Regions from separate parts of the Homo sapiens genome. Here region 1 is linked to region 2. Evidence: fine-mapped expression QTL. A gene starts in region 2. The other region holds a variant in brackets. All regions are shown on one strand. Distances are between the middles of the regions. Region 1 overlaps SLC22A23 (solute carrier family 22 member 23). Region 2 holds the start of SLC22A23 (solute carrier family 22 member 23).

Evidence for each region.
Region 1: its variant is fine-mapped to the expression of SLC22A23 in follicular helper T cells (Schmiedel 2018, PIP 0.93).

What each region holds. Positions count from the first base shown.
Region 1 is chr6:3,351,270-3,359,604 of GRCh38, forward strand. The region is part of intron 3 of SLC22A23 (solute carrier family 22 member 23); the gene reads right to left. Among named protein-coding and RNA genes, the nearest start is that of PSMG4, 96 kb to the left of the region's middle. RefSeq lists enhancers at 1-754, 4,874-5,764. The variant T/C (reference allele first, on the strand shown) is at 4,441.
Region 2 is chr6:3,453,397-3,461,731 of GRCh38, forward strand. SLC22A23 (solute carrier family 22 member 23) reads right to left here and starts at 3,654. Exons shown (of 10, transcript NM_015482.2): 1 at 2,510-3,654. The coding sequence starts at 3,163. It overlaps LOC643327 (a long non-coding RNA gene), which reads left to right and starts at 2,307. Exons shown (of 2, transcript NR_147844.1): 1 at 2,307-2,855. RefSeq lists silencers at 3,422-3,651, 3,712-3,931.

The DNA of each region.
Region 1 (8,335 bases), 100 kb before region 2:
ATTCTAGCCGGATGGCCCTTTGTCCAGTGTAATCGGAGTGCGGTGGAAAATGCCAGGCAATTTAGCCTCTTAGGGTGGAAAACGAAGGGGCGAAGGAAAAGGGTTGGGGAAAAATAATCTGATGTTATCAGCTAGTGCTGGCAGAAAGACAAGTCTTGAGATTTTATGGGGTGGGGGTGGCTGAGCTGGGCAATGAACACAAATCCTGGGGGTTGCCCTGAGCGTGCCAGGCAGCGGGGAACGTTCAGCCCACAAGTACTGGACGGTCAGGACTAATGAGCAGTCATCCAGGCTCAGTCAACAGCCCTCTCTGTGGCTTCCCGCCCACCCCTCCCACTGCTCTGGAAACCTCTCTCCCCTCGACCTTTCCTGGCTTTCGCCTAAGAACACGTCACTGGCCACTTCAAAGATTCTGTAACCCATCTCCTCCCCCAGCCACACTGTACCACAGGGTGGGCCCTATGGAGCCATATTTCTGCTATTTGGTATCAAAACTGTCCCCGAGGAGACTTGCTACTTCATTCAGGACTGAGCCAGGAAACCCAGGTTTCTAATGCATTCTCATCAAATGTACATGACCCCCAGGTGAGCAGGAGGATGGGCAGCAGGGCCAAGGCCTGAGCTGCTGCAGTCATGGGGACCACCTCGAGGCAGATGGAGTTCCCATCTAGGCCACACCAAACAGGAGAGCAGGGAGGGATGCTCTGGGTGGATGACTGTCCACCACCCGACTGGTAAGGCTGCTCCGTTTCTGAAATGGGCGTCAAGGCGAAAGCACTCCATGGCCTCCCCTCCCCAGGCAGGGCTGCTGGAGTGCTGAGAGGTGGCAGAGGCCATGGCAAAACCAGGCCCACCAGGACCACAGATAAGGAAGGGAGGAACAGGGCAGGTTGTGGAAGGAGATGTGAGAGTGCCTCTTGTCCTGCTGCTCTGACAGTGAAAACCACGTACACGGACATGTACAGACACACAGACACTCACAAACATACACACACAGACATGCACACACACACACACACACAGCCATAGACACTTACAAGCATGCACACACAGACATGCACAGACACACACACACACAGCCACAAACACAAGCACATACAGACATGCACAGACACACTCACACACAGACACAGCCACAGAAGCTCACCGGCATGCATGCACAGACACACACAGACACATATTGACCCATTCACATACACGGCCACATACACACATAGGCATACTTGCAGACACACAAATACACAGACAGAGAGAAAGAGAGCAGGTGAGCACACACCAAGCCCCGGCCATAACAAAAGGGAGAAAAGGCTCTGATCTCTGCCATTCTTGTTTTTCCATCTGAAAATGAGAAACCTGCTACTGGGACTCACCTGAATCATGGAAAATGGACTCACTTGAGTCCTTAAATCATACTCTCACAGCATATGAAAACTGCCAAGCTTCCTGGAGGTCTGAGGATAAATGGTGTCGCTTACAGGTGTTCAAAAAGCAGAGAAATGACAATTCTTTAATTAATCTGAGTGAAGGAAAAGCACATAGTGCAAACCCAGAGCCAACAGCAGTTTAGAGACGCTCCCTGGATACGCATGGACAAGCCGCGTGCCCTGCAAACACCCGGGAGAAGATCAGTCGCCCCCGTGACCTGCACCTTGCTACCAGAACCCCCAGTGGTCAGCTTGTCCCAACAGGACTTTGTTGCTGAGGAACAGGGTCAAAATATGTATGAAAATACTACAGTGATTATATTCATTTTTTGCCTGAAATTTTAAGTAAGACTTTTTACCCTGTTCTTCAGCAACGACCAGACCGTGTCAAGAGATGCAAAGTCTCACCTGTGAGTGCTCCGCCTAATCTAAAATTACATGTAAGTATTATTACTTCCCTGCTCACAGGAATAATCTGTTATTCTTGGAGATTTTGAAGGCAAGATGGCAAAGGGCCATAAAAGGCACATAACTGTGGGCCTTTACCTGGCTGCTTAAACCAAAACCTGGTTTTCCAGCATTTGAACAAAAAAAGGGAAACTCCGTCTGTGTTAGATTTCCTATACCACAGCCAGCTCCCCAATGAAGAGGTGCTGCCTGATTCTCCCAGCTGCCAATCTTGCCCTCTTCTACAGCATTTTAGTTAAAATAACTTCCTGTGTCTCAACATCTGGCTTGAGCGGTTTGGCTTCAGGCCTGAATCCCACTCAATGGGAAATGCCGTGACCCTCATGCTGGGATTCACGATGTCACCTGCTTGATTGAGGTGTTCATTATGCTTTACAAAATCACATGTATAAGACTATTAGGAAAACAGTTCAGCTGCAAATCACAAGACTAGGGCTACTGGAATTTTTGCTCCCAAATCACTAGATCAGTCAACCACTGCCTTTCCAGGTAAAGGGCTGTGCTCGCCTCGTCCCATTACCGAAGCTGTGATGTGGCTCTTCTGCCCTGTGCACTGCCACCCAAATGTACTCACGTGATTTCTGGCTTCCAGGGCTGCTGTTCCCAAGAGCTCCCTCCTCAGGAAGCCACACCATTCCCCCACCTTCTTAGTAGAGGCAGACTCTCCCTTCTACCACCAGTGTTTCCCAGGACCCCAGTTCTGGCCCAGAGCATGACAGCATCGAGGAAGCCTCATGCAGAGGCTCCTTACAGATCCCAGACTACCAACTTTTCCAGGTCTCCTATGCGTGGGCTGCTTTACTTTCTCTAAGAAGGCACAAGGAAAAATGCTGGTCCTTGGGTCGGTTGACTGAATCCTTTGATGTGACAGGTAGCTAAGCCACTTATCTGGACCCATAAACCTCCTTGGCAGGCCTGATTGGATTGTGGAAATTTCGATGGTGATCACATGTGTTTTCTCCTTAGAGTTGGCATGGCCAAGACAAGAGCCACATGCAACTTCTAAGCAAAACACACACACAGGCTCACACAAACACATAGCATGGTGCACTCCCAACGGAGAGGCAGTCAGGGCATTGGATGGGCAAAGACACTCCTTTCAGGACCCTTCAAAGGTAAATTCAACAGGAAGTGCACATTTACGGAGGAGCAAGTGACTAAAGGCACTCACAGACTTTTCCTTCTCTTGACTTGTGTACCTTTACATCTTTACATGAGGTGGGTTGGGTAAACAAAAGAAAATCTCAAGAAGATTCAGATTCTCTTTCCATGTCCCTGCTGCATTTAATAAGTTCCTCGATTGTAGTGACCACTGTACTGTGGTCAGATCCATCGATATAGCAGAGACTCTGTGCCTCAAAGGCAAGGCAATGTCTTTCCATCCTCAAGAGACCCAGCATCCAGCAGGCACTCAAGAAAGGATGGGTGAACCATTTATTAGTGGGTAAAGCAATGGATGAACTGAAACACAGTCTGTTTTTAGTTGATGTCCCAGTAAGAGTGTTAGGGGGAAGTCAAGGTGTTGGAGGGGTTGCTCTAGATTTCAATGATCCACACCATCTCTAATTTCTTACTAATTAATCAAATAGTGAATGTCTAACAAATGGGGAAGGTACTATGCTGGGCCAAGTAGCCATGTAATGGGTTTCTGAATCTCATAATTCAACATCATCTTCTTCAACTGACACTTGTCTTTCCAGGTCAATTAAGCAGGCAGCCTCATTAGTTCATGGGTAGACAACACGCAGAACAGACAAAGCAGGACCTGAGGGCCAGAGGGTGACAGTATCTAACTCTGCCCCTAAAAGCACAAGGCATTTGGACAATTTGTGCTACACTCTTTCCTTTAAACAGGCAACAGGAAAAACAATAAAAGATATTCCTACTACCGAGTTTATAAAAACACAAACAAAAAAAACCAGCGCCTCTCCACATGGCAGTATTCAAATCCTTATCTTTGGGCTCCTACCCTCTATCTGCTTGGAAACAGCTCCCTGTCTTTGTGGCCGCCACCCTCCCCAGCTAAAAAAAAAAAAGTCTCCCTCCAAATACTATCCAGTAGCTCTTCAAATAAAATGGGATGAATAGAGAGGCCTTGATAACCACCAGTTTTCTCATCTTCAAACTGGAAATCAGAAATAATATCAGTAAAGACATCGACTTATTAGGTACAGTGAGAAGCCTTTGAACTTAAAAGACGGGAGGAAGACAAGCATGCTGCTCGTGGGTTCGTCACACCCTGTTCTATGCAACAAAGCAACCCTCCCTGGGTCGAGAAAAAAAATCTCCATGATGATCTCTTAGAAATATAAATGTATTTATAGATAGATATTTTCCCTCTTACCATGTGTATAAGAGAACAGGACGTTGCTGGGCAGAGGGAAGTTATTGTGTGAAGGCCAAGGTCATAACAAGGTTACCGTTCTCATGAGTCTGGGCTAGGTCTGGGCCCTCCCGCCCCGCTCCCTGTATCAGCCCCACTCCCAGGCTCCAGAGCTAGGCCACTTGATGCCTGGTCAGTCCTTTCTGTGCCTTCCCAAATTTACTC[T/C]CAATTTCTGGCTCATCTACTATTCTCATTTGCTATTTCTTAAGTTCTGGGCCACGGGAGCCCAAGGTCTCACTCAGCCCTGCACAAACCCCAGCTCTCAAAGCCGGCGTCGCTCTCACTCATTCCCTGTCTCCGCATCGACACGGAGGAGCCACTGGATATAACGCTGAGGTATTAAAAAAAGAAGGAAGTTCAGAAAAACAAACACAGTACGACAGCATTTGTAGGAAGTTTTTTTTTAAAGGCAAAACTGTACAACGCAGTGTTCTAGATGTGGGAAAACCTAACGAAACTCATGAGGATGAAAAACAGCAAACGGGGTGGGGAGACTTGTGGACAGGGGAGGGGGAGGAGGCGGGGGGCGCGGGAGGGGGAGGAGGCGGGAGGAGGCGGGGGTGGGTGGAGGCGGGAGGGTGGGACTTATTAATGAGGCTTGTTTCCGAGTCCGGGTAGCAGATACACGTGACATCAGAAACATCTCATAATCACGAAAGAAATCGAAGCACGCGTGCTCTCTCGGGAGGGCCCTCCTTCTGCGTGCCAGCCCTTGGGATCTGGACTTCTGGCTCCTGGAAACATTCAAAAGGAAACCGGTGGGCCATGGAACCGCTGACAGGATTGGATGGTAAAACAGTGTCTTAGATCCACCCTCGGTGCCTACAAGGGTAACAGGCCACACCCCCATCTCAGAGATGGCAGCGACCTCATCCAAGGGGCAGGGGAAGCCTCAGAGGAGTGATTTTAGCAGCCTCTCACTTCCTCATTTGCCTGTGAAAATAAAGCTGACCCTAAACTTACCGGCTCTGCACTACCCTCCCGCTGGCTGCTTCATTGTCCTGGGCAAATCTTCAGCCCCAGAGACAGTAGTGTTTATTTTAGAACCAAACCCGCTGGCCAGGACACCATCCACGTGAAACATTTCTTCCTAAGCCTGAAGCTTTGTTGTAACCCTGTTGTCTTCCTCCTTATTGGCTCAGCAGTGAGATGGGCTGGCTTGAACCTCCAGGTCTTGAAACCTGCCCAAGATACCAACAACCACCTGTAATAAGGTGCAGGATCCCGCTCAAGCCCTTCAGAGCATCTGTGGATGTGTTACCTCATATGCCCTCACCAAATCCTATAAATAAGAATATCAAGTAGTATCCCCATTTCCAAGATGGGAAATGGCCCCTTCAAAGGTCAGGTCACCGACACTGTGATGCAGGTGGTGTCTCTAGGAGAGGCGCAGGCTTCTAGATCCCAACTGTCGTGGTTTGTTCTAAAGGCTGCAGCAGCCTGGACCATAAAGACAATTTTAAAGCAGTAAACCTAGCAATACAGCCTGGAAGAGAAAACCAAAACAGAGCCAAAAAAAAAAAAAAAAAAAAAAAAAAAACCCAAAACAAGGCAGGCACTGTAATGAAATGCTCACATTTACTCCAGTGCCCACATCTGCATTCCCAGAGTCTCAGAAATCCAGCAGGATTCCAATGCCATGGAAATATGTATCATTGTTTTTGCCAAACAAACTCCCTTACCTTAAGCAAAGGTCAAGTACACTGTAAAACTCCCAGTGCAAACAACCAGCTGGAGGACTTATCCCAGCCTCTGTAAAGTCTTTGCTAATAATTATCCAGACAGCTTTCCTAATTTTTATTTTTAAATGGGGTTGTGGCTCAGCAATAGTGTAAGGATTAATCGCCTTATCAATTAGCATGAGGAAAGGACTGCAAATACAAAGTAGGTGTGTTCTTCCTGGCTTTCTACCTGCTCAATTAGGCTCAGGTCTTAAATGATTTCCAAAATTGGACTACATCTACTGTGTTTACTTCATTCTAAATATCAAAAAGATATCTAAAAGCTTATCATAAAAAAATTTAGAATTTCCCTTTTTGGTTACCAGCCTAAAAGCTCCTTAGTTTAGGGACTGTGTTCTTATTCAACAAGCCATGCCCAGCTCCTGGTTCACAGAACACACTGAATAATGACAAATAATGGAAAACAGAAGGCGGCTGTGTATAATGAATGCATTTCATTCACTTATTCAGCAAGGAGGATGAGGTAGCACCATGCCAGGGGAGATGCCGAGATGAAGCCACACCACCGGCCTCAAGGGGCTCACAGTCTGATGAAGAGACACGTGCCTATAAGACACAGATGGGGTTCTGTGCTACAGGAATGCAAAGAAAGGGACGAGGCCTGGGGAAGACTTCACCAAAGAAGCAGCATTTGAATCTTCCCTTAAGGGAAAAGGAAGTAGGACTGTCCTGCCATGTGGGTGAGGGGAAGGGAAGAGGCCTGGGAGGAGAGTTTTCAGAGAGGCAACCAGCTCTTGCAAAGGCGGCCAGTGCAGAAGAGGCTAGACAGGTTAGGTTCTCAGTATCAAAGTCCCCAGGATGGAGAGAAATTGGAACCTTTAAACACTGTTGGTAGGGATGCAAAAATGGTGCAGCCATTATGGAAAACAGTATGGCAGTTCCTCAAAAAACTAAAACTAGAACTGCCATATGATCCAGTGATTCTACTTCCAGGTACTTATCCAAAAGAATTGAAATTAGGATCTCAAAGCACTTGACGTGAGCGCTCCCACGTTCACTGCAGTGTTATCCACAACAGCCAAGATATGGAAACAACGCAGAGGTCCACTGATAGGTGAAGGGACACACGAAACACAGTGAAAAATACAATAGAATATGATTCCGCTTAAGAACGAATGAAATTCTGACACGTACGACACGTGGATGAACTTGGAGGAATTATGTTAAGTGAAATAAGCCAGTCACAGAAGGACAAATACTACATGATTCCACTTACATGAGGCATGTAAAAATAGGCAAATTCAGAAAATCAAAGAGTGGGCTGATGGTTGCCGGGGGTAGAGGGAGGGAGACATGGGGAGTTGCTCGTCAACTAGCATCAGCTTTCAGGCAGGCGAGATGAATAAGCTCTGGAACTCTGCTGCACACATTGTGTCTATAGTTCACGATACTGTGCTGTACACTGAAAAAACCTGTTAAGAGGGTGGGTCTCATGTTAGATGTTCTTACCACAAATAAAATTAAAAAATAAAATAAAAAAGGCCCCAGGAGAGTTTCTGTTTCATCAACCCAAGGAAAACACCGGAAGGAGTCACAGCTCCAGTGAGGAAGAAGTGAGAAGGGATCTGCCATCGGGGGCTGGAGGGATGGTGGGAACCTTTGCCATTTCAAAGGGAAGCCCTGGCTCCCCTCGGGCACAGCATCCTGGGTGGGGTCTGCACCCCGAGCTGCCACCCATTGCATTTCCATGTCAGCGCCATGTCAGGTGCGCTGTGCCGATGTCTAATCAAGTCTCAGTCATTCAGGATGAAGAGAGAATAGGGAATTCAAAATACATAACTGCAAAAATGAAAGCTCCTTTATTAATTTAGTGCAATACAGAGACGTCCCAGAACAACACGGGCTGCATCCAGAATCACAGATCATTTCAACTAAGAAAAAGATGGGCACCGAGAAGGAGAGCGAGGAACATGCCAGCTGAGACTCATTTCATTCTAGGACAGTACTAGAATGAGCATCTCACTGGGAATTCACCGCCCTCAGGCAGATAACAGATGCTGCTAAGCTATGCTAGCTGGTGTTGCCACGTTTATTCTTCATCACTGAGTGGTTCTCCTTAGGTCACACATATAACTATCCATCTGAGTGCAAGTTTAAAACAAAACAAAAACTGAAGAGGACATACAGATGGCCAAGAAGCACATGGAAAGATGCTCAACGTCACTGTCATCGGGGAAATGTACATCACAGCGACAATGTGGTAGCCCTTCACATCCATCAGGATGGTAGCTGCTGTCAAACAAACAGGAAATAACAAGTGCTGACAAGAATGTGGGGAAACTGGAACCCTGGTGCACCAGTACATTCCTGGTGGGAAT
Region 2 (8,335 bases):
GAAGTGTTCAAACTAGGATGGATAACTTCATGTTAGAGATATCATGCAGAAGGCGAGAGAGGCTGGTCAGCCCTAAGATCCCTTTTAACTACAATAACCTGGGATTCTAACTGGCTTGACAGTTTCACGTGTGTAGGTAGGTGCTAGGATACCAGCAGCCACATGAGAAAGAGGTCCAGAACTGTGCCTGGTAGCTCTTCTGTCTTCCTCTCCCTTTCTGACACCTAGGGACAGAATGGTGCATATATTGTAGGGCACACACACGCTAAAGGATACATACTAAATACAGGATACATGCTGAAGACAGCATGAGGCTTATTTGCAAGAGAAAGATCATGGAACAGAGCAGGAAAGAGGCACAAAAGGCAGCTTCTCAAACCCTGAGCTTTTATCCACTGAAAGAAGGCAAAGGCTCCTTCCACTTTCTGCTTCTACTTGGGATGTGGGCTGACAAGCACCTGACCCCTGGAACTCCTGCACTCACCATAGTGTACATCCCACATTAGTGCATCTGATACAGTATTCAACATACACAGCAGCACAGGAAAAGTCTGCCTTCCAACATGCCAAAATGTGCTTGAAAAGCTCTTTGAAGCATTTGTTATGTGCTTGAAACACACAGAACACTGGGAAGGCAGTCCTTTATTTAGATCTTTTTTGTCTGTGAAAATCAATATGTCCTTTCTAGGCTTTACTGTATAAGAAAATGTGTGTCTAATTATTGTTCCCAGGTTTCCCCTCTCAGTCTGGCCCAGTAACTGCAACGTGTCATCAAGCATCACCCAAAACATGCCACACACATGAGGGCTGTCTGTGACCCTCTCGAATGCTAATTTAGAAAAACTGCCCAGCTCTCCAATATGCCTCCATAGTCTGCTTTTAAGAACTATTTTTGTTCTCTCCTCCCACCGTGCATGGCTGAGTGTGAATAGCTGTTTCCTGGGTCCTCACTGCCAAGGTAATGGCACTCTATCCCATCTCATCACTTTCAAGTTCACCTCTACTTTGACCCCAGGACACAGCGCTCTTCACACATACTCACTTTGATCCATTATTCTCCCTCTGCTCTAGAAAGACACTTGAAATACTTAACAATGTTGCCAAATCCTCAGTCTGTCAGACATACACAGTGATTTAAATAGTCATTGTTCTTAATTTTTCTTTGCTGCTAAACCAACAAAGAAATATTGCCCTCCGTGAAGGGAAAACAGTCACAGAAACACCTTTAGAAAGCAGGGGGTAGGAGGTGGGTGGGATCAAGGTGAACCCAGCTAGAAGGACCTTCCCCATTACCTTGCAGGGCAGCAGGGGCAGCTCAGTCAGACAGTTCCCACAGGACAGAGCATTTCTGGCCAGGTTGGTACAAGATTAAAACAATGATTATGATGATGTAAGAGTTTATCTTACACATCCATGAGCTACAACTGTTAACCAATGCACACGGGGGGAGGAGGTTACATGCACATTGACTATTTAAAACTGTCCAATTTCATACATTTCGACAAAGCATTTAAAACTCTGCCAGAACAGCCCAGAATGGGTAGCGGGTGGGGTGGAGGAGAGTCTGTATTTACTTTAAAATGTGAATTAATTAGTTTAGACACAAGGAGCAAAACTACAAATGTCTTGATATCTCTTATATGTTAAGAATAAAATTACAGCTGTCTAGGGGCATTGAGTGTCCACCATTGCCCACTCTGTGTTTAGGCCTTCACACTTGTCTCACAACTCCCTTCTGCTACATTTCACACCACGCAATACCTCTGCAAGGGAGCTTTAGCTACAGGACTCAGAGGACAAGGTGCATGTTTCAGCTAAAGCACACCCCCGTTCTCAGTGCCTCAGCCCAAAGCAGCTGCTGTGTAAGAGCGGTGACGGCCGGGGAACACCCAAATGACATATTCTCCGCGTCCTTCCTATACTGTAGTGATGTTTACTGAAGTGCTGAGAAAACATGGGAGGAGACACTGGGGTAGCAAAGCCTAAAGTCAGATATCTTTGGGGAGGACTAAGCATCGGCTGCGGGTTGGGGATTTGCAGGAGTCTTTGCTTCTCTGGCTCTCCAGTTCTTTAGTAGGCTTTACCTGTGTCAAAATCAAGTGCGAGATGGAAGACTATTGCTTTGTGGGAGACCCAGGGACAACTAGCCGGGCAGAACAGGGCTGTGGTCCCGACTCCCCCAGCAGACCTTGAACGACGCCAGTCCGACTCCTCCAGAGGGGGCTGGTGACAGGTCAGCTGCCTCGCCCCGAGGGTGGGGGAAGGGCGCGCTTTCCATCCGCGTACTGGGACAGGAGTTTGGGTGCAAACTAGTAAAGGCTATGGTGCTCCCTTTACACCCAAGTAAAGGCATGTGGTTTGGGGGACGGAAGGAGATTAAGCCAATGCGGAATGCCCTACACACACTCTAGCACCACCACTTTGGGGACTTCGGTTCTCCCGCTGGCTCGGGCTTGGACCTCGGTCTGCAGGGAGAGGGTTGGAGGGACTGGGCGGCTGCGGCCCTTACCTTGCTGACCACGTTCTGGACGAGGCCGGCGCGGATGCCGTAGTCCCATGCGCGGCAGTCACAGTTGGAGGCGTTGTCCCCCTTGTCCGGAGGGGATGGCAGGGGTGGTGTGTCGCCTCCGTCCGCGCCGCTGCTGTTGCTCCGGTTGCCCGCAGCCTCCCAGGGGGCAGTGGCGAAGGGGGTGGTGGGGAGGCTGGTCCAGTTGCCCATGTCCCCGCCCCGGCCTGTGGTGGTGACCCCTGCCAGCTCGGTGCCTTTGCCGGCCCCGCGGCACCAGAAGTTGGGCTGGTCCAGGAGGAACGAGTCCGAGAACTGGCTGAAGCCGATGAACAGCGCCGGGATCCAGGTGAGCAGCACGAGGGTCTTCTGATAGCCCCCGCCCAGGCCCCCGAGGAAGGGCAGCACCGACCCGTCATAGTCCAGCAACAAGAGGCTCGGGGCCGCAGCCGCGGAGCAGCAGCTCGGGTGCGGGCCGCCTCCAGGATGCAGTGGGGGCAGCGGCTGGATCTCCGCGCCGCCGCCGGGGCCCGCGCGTCCCCCGAGGGGCGCCGAGGCCGCCGCGTCCCCGGGCGGCAGGGAGCCGTTCTCCTCGGCCGGGGCCGGCTGCCGCCCAGGCCCGCCGCCCGCCGCCTCGCGCCGCCGGTCTATGGCCATGGCCCGGGCCCGCGGCTCCCGCAGAGGCGCATAGAGCGCGGCGGAGGCTCCGCGGGCGCCCCGGGCACAGCGCGCCGGGCCAGGCGCCTGCAGCCGCTGCCGCCGAGGAGGGCCCGCGGCTCGAGAGAGAGCGCTCGGCGGCTCCGGGTGCGTCAGGCCGCCCCCATGTCACCCGCCGGACCCCGCGCCCCGGGCGCTGCGGCCCCGCTCGGGCGCCGGGCAGAGGCGGGCAGAGGCCGGCCGGGCCCTCAGCCGCCGCGGCTCATCAGTTCCGCGGCCCGGGCGCCGGCTGCCGAGCCCGCCGCTCTCCGCTGCTCCGCGCCGGACGCGGCAGGAGGAGGAGCCGGCGCCGCGCCCGGCCCGCGCCCTTGCCGGCGGTTCAGGGCCCTGCGGGCGGCGGTGCGGGCAAAGGCTGCTGCTCCCGGGGTGGCCGCGCTGTATTTCTCCGACTTCGGGCGCCTCCCGGAAGCCGCGAGCTCTGGACCCAGCCTGCCGAGCCGGCCGCGCTCTCCAGCTCCTGGAGCCGGCCCCACTCCTCCTCCTCCTCCTCCTCCTCCCCCTCCTCCCTGCCCCCCGGCCCGCCCCCTCTCCCCCCGCCGAGGTGGAGGTAACCGCGGCACCTGCTGCGCTCGGCTCCTGCTCGCGAGCGCCCCCTCCAGCCCGGACGCGCGGCCGCCGCCGCCCGGGATCCACGGGAGGGGGGCGGGGGAAACGGGACACCCCGGGCCCGCCTGGCTGGAGGATCCCCTGCCCGTTGCCCGTTTCGCGCCGGGCGGGGCGGGGGAGGAGGAGACGCGCGTAGCAGGGGTCGCCGGCCGGCGACGGGTCCCGGCAAAGTCGGCGTGCGCTGAGAACGTGTGGGCCGGGTCTTCTCTGAGGCTGGGCTCCCGCAGCCGCGCGGGCCCCCCACCCACTCCGCGCGCGCCAGGTCTCCGTGACCTCTGTCTCTTCAGAGGTGCCCGGCGGTCCCGCTGCCCGCGCCCCGCTCCCAGTCCCAAGCCCGAGGGTCTTCAGCCTTCGGGAACAACCCTCTGCGCTTTTTCCAGGAGCGAATAAGGTTGATTTTTGTGTCCGTGGAGCAGGGTCAAGGAGGCGCCTTTGCCAATTTCAGGTCGCCAGTCCCCCGCAGTGTCTGGCCACCTGCGACCCGCCGCACCCACTCCCAAATCGCCATTTCTTCCCCCACTCCTAAGTGCATGCGATGTAAGCACGATGCTGGGATATATCTCCAACACAAGTTATAATACACACAGTATAAACGTGATGGCATTCCCCACCCCCTCCCTAAGATCTTGTATTCACGTTTGGAACGCCGTGTGCACAGGCGCACACATCTATACTCTCACACAAGAAGACAAACCTCTCCCTCCTCTCCTGCTCCAGCGCCAACCTTGCCCAGCCAGCGCTGTATAAATAACACCAGCCCTGCGGCAAACGGCTACATTAGCATATTTCCTCCTGCACCCAGCGCACGCACCAAAGAGAATTATCCGGCACCTTTCAACCCAGCGTCCCCACATTTTGGAGGCATTTCATATTCTGAGAAGTTTATTAATGGAAGTCTTAAATGGAGCAATCCATTTCTAGTCTTATTTGGGGCAAAAAAAAAAAAAATGTTTAGCTTTCCAAAAGGATATATTCTAAGCTCCATATACTGAATGTATTCTTTTGCATTTTCATTATTTGCTCAGCTAACCGCTGCACAATTTAGTGGAATACATTTTTAACCTGCAGTTCAGTGTTAAGGGCAACATGTGTTTACTGCATAAAATGCTGGCACATACGTACCAGAGAACTATTTCTGAAGGCTGCCGGGGGGCGGGTCTTGGGGGACAGGGGAGGTTGTGGACCTTCCTGCGTGGCCGAGAAGGGGTGATTAGATAACAATGGGCGGAAGGGGCCCTAAGGGCTGCAAAAGACACCAGACCGCTGAGAAATGGGTCTGGAAACCACATATATAAAGAGCTGGGGGCTTGGGGCGGGGGGGGACACGATAGTGCACGTTGTGTACGTGGTAATTTTTCAACTTCACATTATTTATTAGCTTAACTTTTCTTTTCCTTCCCTCTCCTCCCCTCATTTGAAGAGCTAATACATGCAAAGTTCTGACCTCCATGCCTGGAACAGAGTAAGTGCGCAATGAATGTTAGACATGTATTATTACCAGTGCTCCTCTTGCCATTACATACAATCCACATTTCTTTTTGAATTGAAATATAACTTTACGGATTTTATTTATTTTCCTTTCAGTGGCTGATTTTCCAGAAGAGGTCCACTTTGTGTCTGGCTCTGCCTCCCTTCCCCCACAGTCACAAGGACCCATTTGTTTTCTTGTAACTGATCACAAAAGGAGCATTGCCATTGACCTTAATGGCCCTTCCAATCAGAATAACTATCATAGCCAGCGTTTCAGAGTTGGCTTTCAAATTCACACTCTCACTCAGTCCTCACATTCAGCGCCCCAAGAAGTGGGCTTTCAAAGAGAAACAGCAAGGATCAGGTGACTGACTACCAGATCAAAGAGTTGGTCCCCAGCTGAGCCAAATATCTGGTTTTGAACCCAGATTTTCTGACTGGACATTACCGGATTTCTCCATTTCATCATACAGGGGCAACTATAGGGAAGAGTTTACAAAGATGTTTGTTAATGTGCATTTTTACGTGGGAGAAGCCCTGGCCCTAGGAAAAGAGTTTCATTGTGAAGATGTTATTAGTCTTTGTTCGCAAAAGGTGGTAAAAATCCTCAAATGGTACATTCTTAGAATTTAGGGACACACTGGAAAATGGTATCCTCTAAAACTGAAGCTAAAAGGAGGCAACATAAAATGTTTGAAATTAACTAGCTGCAGCACTGACCCAGGCATTGTAATTAAGCTGTTGATTAGATTAGAGGTTTCCCTAAATTCCTCCTGGATTGATATTTCCACCAAATCTAGTCAAGAAGATTAAAGTGTAACTACTTTAAAATAAAGTGGCCTTCAATTTATTAAAACATACCACAAGTGATCTCATAACGTGAGCAAAAGGAGTAAAGAGGAAGAATTTGACACTCTGACAGCCTCAGTGGGTGAGGTTTGAGATCCATGGACCAGGATAGGAAAGCCAGACACCTGTTAAAAAATTACTGTTTTTAATTTTCTGAATGAGCATTATCATCAGCTGCTATTTTTCTTGTTTGCTTAGTTAGATTTACGTTCTGCCTCTAGAATGTAAGCACCTTCGGGGATAGGTGCCTTGTGCTCAGCTGTATGCTTGGTGGTTAAAACAGTGCCTGGTACATGCAAGGCACTCAATACATCTTTGTCAAATAAATGAGTGTATCAAGTTATTAATCACTTGATGATACTGTCTATTCAAATCATCAAACTGTTTACTTTGTTTCTTAAATCATCAAGCAACCTTTTTGTGTTTGTTCATCTCTCAAAGATGGTGCTCAGATCAGCCAACATGAGACTTGAAATGAATTTGACAATTATATGTCTTGTTGTAAGGCATTGTGGTTACTGGATTAGCTCCCAATATTATCTTCTCTTGGGCAGTATTGGCTTGCAGATGGTGGCTTATAGGCCAAATGCAGCTCACAGACCATAGGCAATGTTTTCAGGAAAATAATTGCTAACATTTCAAAATTGGGAGATTGAATACTTAGAAAAAAATGTGTTTTGGGCTTCTCTGAACATCATAGCAGAAGCCATTGTCCTTTTGATGCCCCATGTTTGCAGGACCGTGCTTTCTTGGACTGCAGTAAATGAGCAGGCACTCTCCAGCTTGCCCTCATCCCTGCCTGACACATGCCCCTCATGCATGACATTTGGCCCCCAAAAGTAGCTGTGTTTGTGACCCTAAATTTATGTGAGTATCCTGAACCCAGTGATCTTAATAAAGAAGCTGAGTCATTCCCTTTTCCTTTGAAAGTATGTTAAAGAATCTACCAGTTTATAGTTTTCTAAAAATTGAGAAAATAAGGAAAGGAAATGAAAGTCATAACCTAATCACCAATACATTTGAACAGTTTTATTTCCTTGGAGATAACAGGAGAAAAAATGTTTTAGCTTACCTCTAAAATTGATGGAAACCTAATTTTAAATCCTCTATAATTCTGTAAAAGTTAATTCTAAGGAATTCAAGTCAGGGTTAATTAACTTTAAATGTACGCTGCAAGTCATACCAAATGTATTTCACGTTGGTTTCTCTGATTATTCATGGTCTTTATACTTGAATTATAGATAGATATATCACATTTTAGAATATCCTGTGTCATTTTTTTTTTAAACTGCAGCTTGATTTCTTCCTTTCAAATAACTATTTGAAAATTAGGTTACCTTGATTTTGGGAGGGTGGGAGAAAGTGATTGAAATTATTTCCAACTCTAGTTGTGTATACTTGAATATTATTTATATCATCCTTTGCCTTTTGGAATATCAAGTCTGACTCTTTAACAAGAAATTTGACATTTACAAAACCTATCATAAATGAAAATGAAAAAGCTACTTTGGTTAAGTGACAGAAGTAATAAAAATGTCACATAATCTATCCTAAGGAAAGTTACAGGTAGTATCTTGAGAAAAACTACCTACTCATCTAGTACAAGACAAATTCATCAAAAGGCCAAGTGAAAACAGAAAAAGTGAAGATAAGACTTCTATGCAAAAAGCTACTCCATTGTAAATGTGATGGCTAGGGCCCAGTTACTTTCAAAGTTTGGTCAAAATTTAATTTTGAAGTCTTTTATTGAATTAAAAAAATTAGTGAAGCAAATCGATCTAAAATTTGATGTTGGCTTTTGTTTGATGAAAATCATAGATGTCATCTTTGTCTTACTGTACTTAAGAATGTTCTTTGGGCCAGGCACGGTGGCTCACGCCTGTAATCCCAGCACTTTGGGAGGCCGAGGGGATCACGAGGTCAGGAGATCAAGACCATCCTGGCCAACATGGTGAAACCCCATCTCTACTAAAAATACAAAAATTAGCTAGGCATGGTGGTGCGCACCTATTGTCCCAGCTACTCGGGAAGCTGAGGCAGGAGAATCGCTTGAACTGGGAGGCAGAGGTTGCAGTGAGCCAAGGTCATGCCACACTGCACTCCAGCCTGGTGACTGAGCAAGACTCCATCTCAAAAAAGAAAAAAAAATGTTCTTTGACACACACACACACACACACACACACACAC